2 linked regions of the Homo sapiens genome follow. The protein of the gene in region 1 interacts with the protein of each later gene in a biochemical or structural test. Each region holds a gene or a part of one and is shown on either strand. Other genes may lie near its edges.

What was found.
Region 2: the proteins of CPSF1 (region 1) and CSTF3 form a complex in vitro, tested with the Homo sapiens proteins (one study listed by BioGRID).

Annotation. Positions count from the first base shown.
Region 1 is NC_000008.11:144,399,035-144,402,849, reverse strand, and holds part of CPSF1 (cleavage and polyadenylation specificity factor subunit 1), read left to right. Parts: intron 1-735; exon of another isoform or gene 736-935; intron 936-1,176; coding exon 1,177-1,204; intron 1,205-1,286; coding exon 1,287-1,420; intron 1,421-1,558; coding exon 1,559-1,639; intron 1,640-1,774; coding exon 1,775-1,926; intron 1,927-2,032; coding exon 2,033-2,179; intron 2,180-2,356; coding exon 2,357-2,496; intron 2,497-2,504; exon of another isoform or gene 2,505-2,573; coding exon 2,574-2,684; exon of another isoform or gene 2,685-2,764; coding exon 2,765-2,858; intron 2,859-2,981; coding exon 2,982-3,069; intron 3,070-3,139; coding exon 3,140-3,262; intron 3,263-3,346; coding exon 3,347-3,398; intron 3,399-3,476; coding exon 3,477-3,574; intron 3,575-3,647; coding exon 3,648-3,722; intron 3,723-3,811; coding exon 3,812-3,815. UniProt on the Homo sapiens protein: Component of the cleavage and polyadenylation specificity factor (CPSF) complex that plays a key role in pre-mRNA 3'-end formation, recognizing the AAUAAA signal sequence and interacting with poly(A) polymerase and other factors to bring about cleavage and poly(A) addition.
Region 2 is NC_000011.10:33,095,194-33,099,008, forward strand, and holds part of CSTF3 (cleavage stimulation factor subunit 3), read right to left. Parts: intron 3,572-3,815; coding exon 3,497-3,571; intron 1,786-3,496; coding exon 1,642-1,785; intron 1,216-1,641; coding exon 1,113-1,215; intron 1-1,112. UniProt on the Homo sapiens protein: One of the multiple factors required for polyadenylation and 3'-end cleavage of mammalian pre-mRNAs.

The sequences.
Region 1 (3,815 bases):
TCCCACCTGTCTGTGGGCTGTTGGGGTGGCCTGAGCCACCTGCGGTGCCGTCAGCCCCACATGAGTGGGTGTGTGTTTTTTTTTTAAGTGTGTCATTACTTCTGAAACCTTTGGTAGAATTTGCGGGTGAAGCCCTGGAGTTGCCCTTGTCGCTGTGAGATGGGTATTGGTTTGTGGATGCTTCTTCTGTATCTCTTAACCAGCTTCCAAGATGCCCTCCCCATAGCACAAGTCCATCGTGAAAAATGACCTTGAGGTGGCTCACGCCTGTAATCCCAGCACTTTGGGAGGCTAAGGTGGGCGGATCACCTGAGGTCAGGAGTTCGAGACCAGCCTGGCCAACATGGTGAAACCCTGTCTCTACTAAAAATACAAAAATTAGCCGGACATGGTGGCACGCACCTGTAATCCCAGCTACTTGGGAGGCTGAGGCAGAATCACTTGAACCCGGGAGGCAGAGGTTGCAGTGAGCCAAGATCACGCCACTGCACTTCAGCCTGGGTGACAGAGTGAGACTCCGTCTCAAAAACAAAAAACAAAAAACAAAAAAAAACAAAACAAAAACCACTTTTCCCTTGCCTTGAGGCAATGGCATATAAATCTGCTAGCTAGTTAAACTAGCTACCTAGTAGCAAAGAACACACAGCCTCTTATCATTCTGGGAGGGCAGTGAAAAGGGAGGAGATAGAGAGGCAGCCTGGGGGAGCCCGAGGCGTCAGGATAGCGCAGGGCTTCCTCTTCTCTAACAGGCACGCAGATCAGTAGCTACAGATACCCCTTGGCTCTGGCTTCCTGCCCTGTGACATTTGGACCCAGGGGCCGGGGCTGGGCTGCTGTAGGTGTGCAACCAGGCAGGTTTGGGGGTGTGCAGACACAGAGTGCACTCTAACCCTGAGTGCTTGCCGCACAGGGCCTGGCTGCTAGGGAGCCGTGAGGTAGGGGCTTCCTGGGGAGGGGCCTGTGCCAGGGCTGGGCCGTGGGCATGAGAGCGTGAATGGGGGTCGCTGTGGGGGGCTGTGCACAGCTGTCTCCAGAAGCCCTTCTCCCTGCTGCAGAGAGGGTTTGGGCAGAGCTCCCAGGAGGCAGGGGCCAGGCTTGGTGGTCTTTTCTCGTTCCCCGGATGAGGTGAGCTGCCAGATGTGGCCCCTCACTGCCCTGTCTTTCTCTCCCCTCCAGGCTCTGACCAAGAATGACAGGAGCACAGGTGAGTGTGGTGGGGCGGCCTGGGGCTGTGCGGGTGCCAGGCATGGCTGGGCCCTGACCCTGAGCCCTGGTGTCTCCCCTAGAGGGGAAGGCCCACCGGGAGAAGCTCGAGCTTGCTGCCTCCTTCTCCTTCTTTGGCAACGTCATGTCCATGGCCAGCGTGCAGCTGGCAGGAGCCAAGCGGGATGCCCTGCTCCTAAGCTTCAAGGATGCCAAGGTGAGTGGTAGGCTTGGTGGGGTAGGCCTGGCCAAGGCGTGGGAGTGGGTGCCAGGGCCTGGGTACAGCCGTTGGTTGCCGGGGGCGACACTGTCAGGACCGGCAGTCGGCAGCCACGGCTGTGCCCTCTGACCGCAGCTGTCTGTGGTGGAGTACGACCCGGGCACCCATGACCTGAAGACCCTGTCACTGCACTACTTTGAGGAGCCTGAGCTTCGGGTAGGGCCGCGCTCCCGCCCCCGCCCAGGCCCCGCCCAGCCACCCTCCCTCCCCCTGCAGCTGGGTTCTGTGGCCCCAAGTGTTTCCCTCGGGGTCTCCTATGCTGGGCCTGGCTGATGCCCCCTCTGCCCCCAGGACGGGTTTGTGCAGAATGTACACACGCCGCGAGTGCGGGTGGACCCCGACGGGCGCTGTGCAGCCATGCTTGTCTACGGCACGCGGCTGGTGGTCCTGCCCTTCCGCAGGGAGAGCCTGGCTGAGGAGCACGAGGGGCTCGTGGGTGAGGGGTGAGTGCCAGCTGAGGCAGGCTGTGGTGCTGGGGTGGGAGGCGCCAGAGCCCGAGCTCCCCTCCCCGCCTCCCCTCCTCTCCTGCTGAAGCCCCTGGCCCCCCAGGCAGAGGTCCAGCTTCCTGCCCAGCTACATCATCGACGTGCGGGCCCTAGACGAGAAGCTGCTCAACATCATCGACCTGCAGTTCCTGCATGGCTACTACGAGCCTACCCTCCTCATCCTGTTTGAGCCCAACCAGACCTGGCCTGGGTGAGCCCCCTAAGGAGGCCCCTCTGCACTGTGGGCCCCCTAGCTGCCTCTGCCTGGGGTGGGGCCCATGGGGTTTAGGGCGGGGCCTATGGGGTGTGGTGGGGCTTGCTCGGGAGGAGCTGGGCCTGGGTCTCTGCGGGGAGGCAAGGCCCTTGGCTGACCCACTGGCGTCCCCAGGCGCGTGGCCGTGCGGCAGGACACGTGCTCCATTGTGGCCATCTCACTGAACATCACGCAGAAGGTGCACCCCGTCATCTGGTCCCTCACCAGCCTGCCCTTTGACTGCACCCAGGCTCTGGCTGTGCCCAAGCCCATAGGTGTGTGTCCTGGGAGTGGATAGGGGAGTGTGTGGAGAGAGCACTGAGCCTGCCCACCAGCCTGTGTCCACCTCCAGGTGGGGTGGTGGTGTTTGCCGTCAACTCGCTGTTGTACCTGAACCAGAGCGTCCCCCCGTATGGCGTGGCTCTCAACAGCCTCACCACAGGAACCACGGCTTTCCCGCTTCGTGAGTGTGGGGTGGCTGGGGCGGGGGGGGCCCGGGGACGGCTTGGGCCTGCCTAGTCGGCCTGACCACCCACCCCACAGGCACCCAGGAGGGTGTGCGGATCACCCTGGACTGCGCCCAGGCCACCTTCATCTCCTACGACAAGATGGTCATCTCCCTCAAGGGCGGCGAGATGTGAGCCCCTCCCCCGCCCATGAACTCTGCCCACACCGCCCCCCACAAGTCCTGTAGGGTCCCCTGGCCCCCTTCACTCCCCCAGGGTCCCCATCCCCGACTCAGAATTCTCCCTGCCCCCAGCTACGTGCTGACCCTCATCACCGACGGCATGCGCAGTGTCCGAGCGTTCCACTTTGACAAGGCGGCCGCCAGCGTCCTCACCACCAGCGTGAGTTGGGACTAGGGGTTGGGTCTGGGTCCAGACCCGGCCCAGCCATCACACACCTGCCCTCCCTCAGATGGTCACCATGGAGCCCGGGTACCTGTTCCTGGGTTCTCGCCTGGGCAATTCCCTCCTCCTCAAGTACACGGAGAAGCTGCAGGAGCCCCCGGCCAGTGCTGTCCGTGAGGCTGCCGACAAGGTGGGTTTCCTGGGCCCATTGGGCCACCACCCTTCATGTGGGCACTGCTGTGGCATGCCACTCAGTGCCCCTCCTGCCTCACAGGAAGAGCCTCCCTCAAAGAAGAAGCGAGTGGATGCGACGGCCGGCTGGTCAGGTGAGGGCCGGTCCAGGGCTGGTCAGGAGCGGGGCCAGGTGACCCAGGGCTGCGCTCAAGTGGGCTCTCTGTGTGCAGCTGCGGGTAAGTCGGTGCCGCAGGATGAGGTGGACGAGATTGAAGTGTACGGCAGCGAGGCCCAGTCGGGAACACAGCTGGCCACCTACTCCTTTGAGGTGAGATTGAGGCAGCAGGGCCCCCGTCCCAGCCAGCGCCCCCAGCGGGCCCCTGACTCTTGCTGTGCCGCAGGTGTGTGACAGCATCCTGAACATTGGACCCTGTGCCAATGCCGCCGTGGGCGAGCCTGCCTTCCTCTCTGAAGAGGTGCCCAGGGTTGGGGTCGGGGCTGGGGGCAGGGGCTGGAGTGTGAGGGGGGGTGGGGGGCATAGTCCTCACCCCCGAGTCCTGTGCAGTTTC
Region 2 (3,815 bases), on another chromosome or scaffold:
CCGGCCTATTCATTTATTTTTAAATGTTTTTTAGAGACAGGGTCTTGCTCTGTCATCCAGGCTAGATGGAGTACAGTGGCGTGATCACAGCTCACTGTGACCTCCAATTCCTGGGCTCAAGTGATCCAAGTATCTGAGACTACAGGCATACGCCACCACACCTAGCTAAAAAACCAACTTTTATACTACATCTTTTTTTGTTAAGAAATTACATATTGTGCACTGTTGTTAACTAGACTAAATGATATACATATATGAATTATCTAGCACAGTGCCTGGTAGGAACTCAATAAAGGATGGCCAGTGTTATTCGTACAACAGAATAGGGAAATAAATACTAAAAACCGGCCGGGCGCGGTGGCTCACGCCTGTAATCCCAGCACTTTGGGAGGCCGAGGCGGGCGGATCACGAGGTCAGGAGATCGAGACCATCCTGGCTAACACGGTGAAACCCTGTCTCTACTAAAAATACAAAAAATTAGCCGGGCGAGGTGGCGGGCGCCTGTAGTCCCAGCTACTCCGGAGGCTGAGGCAGGAGAATGGCGTGAACCCCAGGGGGCGGAGCCTGCAGTGAGCCGAGATTGCGCCACTGCACTCCAGCCTGGGCGACAGCGAGACTCTGTCTCAAATAAATAAATAAATAAATAAATAAATAAATAAATACTAAAAACCAAAATGTTTCTTTTTGAATCTTTTCCCCAGTATCCTCAAAGTGTTTTACTTTACTATTTGGGCATCTTTTGAGTTTGAGTTTTGGTGGCTAGAGGGTTTTTTGTTTGTTTGTTTTCCTTCCAGGAAACAGGAGATGATCTGCCCAGAGTCATCAGAGATGAATATAAACAACTCTGTGTCTCCTGACTCTGACTCTGAAGCTTTATCCCACTACTGATGGTACTTTACTGAATAAAGACAGTTCTGCAGAGTCAAAAAACATCTACCATTGCTCAGTAAATATATTCATGGTTGATATACCACAAGTATTTCTTGAGTGCCTAACAAGTGCCTGTCTGCTATGTCAAAATTATAATACATTCAAGAAGGAAGAAATCTAGCAACATAATTCCACATGGTTTAATATTAAGTAATCATTATAGATTCTAGAATCAACCTACCATTGAGGTGAGAAAGATAGTCAATATAGGCCAGGACATACTCTGGAATGTCTCCATATTTTTTTAGCCCCAGCTCAAAAATCTTAAAGGCAACAGATTTGTCCTACAAGTAAAGAAAGTAAAGTACAGATTTCCATGAAATGTCAGATAAAAAACACTTGAAAGAATATTAAAATTATACCTACATATGACAAAATATGTAAGAATTAAAACAAATTAAAATCATGTTAAGTAAAAATTGCTGAGCTAGAAACTATTCAAAGGAGTTTAGTGATTAGAAATCACGAAATAGTGATTAATATAGTGATTAATAAAGCACAAATTAGAAATATAGTGATTAATGAAGCATAAATTAGCAAGTAGTTGGGGATTTGGATGATGCTCCATAAAATTTTACACAGATACACTTAGACTGCCTTTACAAAATGGAGCAATAAAAGCTTAATGACAGAAGCTAAAATCACCTTTCTTTTACGAACCTCAGATGAAGGAAGTTGTTTTATCTTTACACTTGTATTTCAGTATTTACCTTACTACAGTAATATTCCATGAGTGCTGCAGTAACATAGACATGGTGGCGGGTTCTGGTATCTTCTCTTGCTTTTTTAAATATCATTCTTCCAGATTTGATGCCTTCTGCTCTCCGTGCAAATTTCATATATTGGATATATACCTATGCAAAAGAAAGTATTTGTGTTCTATAAATTAGACAGTATGTTTCCTGCATAAGAAAGCAATCCTCAATACCCAATAAATTAGAAAGTAGGAATTTAGATAATATTCTATTTAAATCCACAAACTAATTTTTTTCTGGTATTAGAGATGCATGCAAATTAATTTATTTTTTTATTGAGACATAATTCACATAGCACAAAATTCACCCTTTACAATTCAGTGGTTTTAAATATATTCACAAGGTTGTGCAATCATCACCATTATCTAATTCTAGAATATGTAAATTAAAGTTTAAGAGTGAAAAGTGTGACACTACTAGAACATACTCCATTAATGAATGTCAATATCTAAAAAACTCAAGGGTTGGTTTAATACAAGCACGTCTTACAATACATGTTTTTTTTTTTGAGACGGAGTCTCGCTCTGTTGCCCAGGCTGGAGTGCAGTGGTGCGATCTTGGCTCACTGCAACCTCTGTCTCCTGGGGTCAAGCCATTCTCCTGCCTCAGGCTCCCAAGTAGCTGGGACTACAGGCACACGCCACCACACCCGGCTAATTTTTGTTTTTTAGTAGAGATGGGGTTTCACCATTTTAGCCAGGCTGGTCTCAATCTCCTGACCTCGTGATCTGCCTGCCTCGACCTCCCAAAGTGCTGGGATTACAGGTGTGAGCTACCGCGCCCAGCCTGCAATACATGTTTAACTTCACATTTTCTTGGTTTCTTTTTAAAAGCCCACTACTCTATTTTCCGAACAACATATAATAGAACTTCATGGATAAACTATGAGCCATTTTATACCTAGCACCTACAGAGTGTCCAGTACATCATGAGTATGCAGTTTTGTTTAGTGAACAAATGACTAATTAGTAGGGTCCTGGTTTGCCCAGTATTGATAATGTCTAGCTATATTACCCAGTTTTGATGGATGGATGGATGGACTATGAGTTCCTCAAGAAAAGGAATTTCATCTAGTTTGTCATTAATGTTGCTGGAGTCTAGCACAATGCATAGACTCTAGCAATATATTTGCCAGATATGTTTGTGGAATGAATTATAAGATGATGAATAAATGTAGGAATTATAGCAGTGGAATCCCAATATAAATCATTAACAAGAAAAAGTAGTGTAGCTATAATTGACTTGAGGCAGAGGTTCTAGAGACACACCCACAAGCCTGTCCCCTTCCTCTCCCAATGGGAGAGCATCACTGCACTTTTGCACTTGGGGCTTTGAAAACCACTATGATAGAGCAGGATTTAGCATAAAGTGAGTTTCAGTCTAATTTCTTCCCAGGATGTCGGTTTCTCCCGCCTCATTTAAAAAGAAATATCTATTAAGCAACAATTCTGTGGCATAAAGTGACTTCAAACCATGATCACAAAGAAAGTGTTAGAGAAAGTGCCTCTGTATCTATTTTATACTGCTGCATTAAAAAGAAAAAATTCTAGCAGAAAACAGATCAGTAATTGTCAGAGGTAAGGGCAGAGGGAAGGGTTATATCTACAAAGGGGTCACATGGGGGAATTTTTGGAGGATGGTGGAGGTGTTTTCTATCTTAATTGTGGTGGGGATCCCATACTCAATGTTATTTGTCAAGATTAATAGAACTATACAACAAAAACAGTGAATTTTATTGTATATAAATTTAAATTATTTTTTGTTAGATAAGACTGTAAAGGTGGAAAAAAAGATTTGTAAAGTTACTCACCAAGGTAGGGTCAATATCCTCAATTGCCAGAAGTCTGTTATATATACTGTGAACCTTTTCATACTTCATGCGACTCTAAGGTGGTACAGAAGAAGTGAGTATCAACATATGGTCATAAATAAGCAGGATTTGAGCTCCAAGGAATCCAAAGGCTATAACCTCCCACCCCCAATGGCATCTCCATTGAGCATAAATATAGTATAAGCTGACAACTAATAACTGTTCATTTGGCATCATCTCTGTCTACCAAAAGCAATATGCCTGGCAAACAAGCAGCCAGAAAAAAAGTTCAGTCCTGCACTAAAAAATTGAATTATAA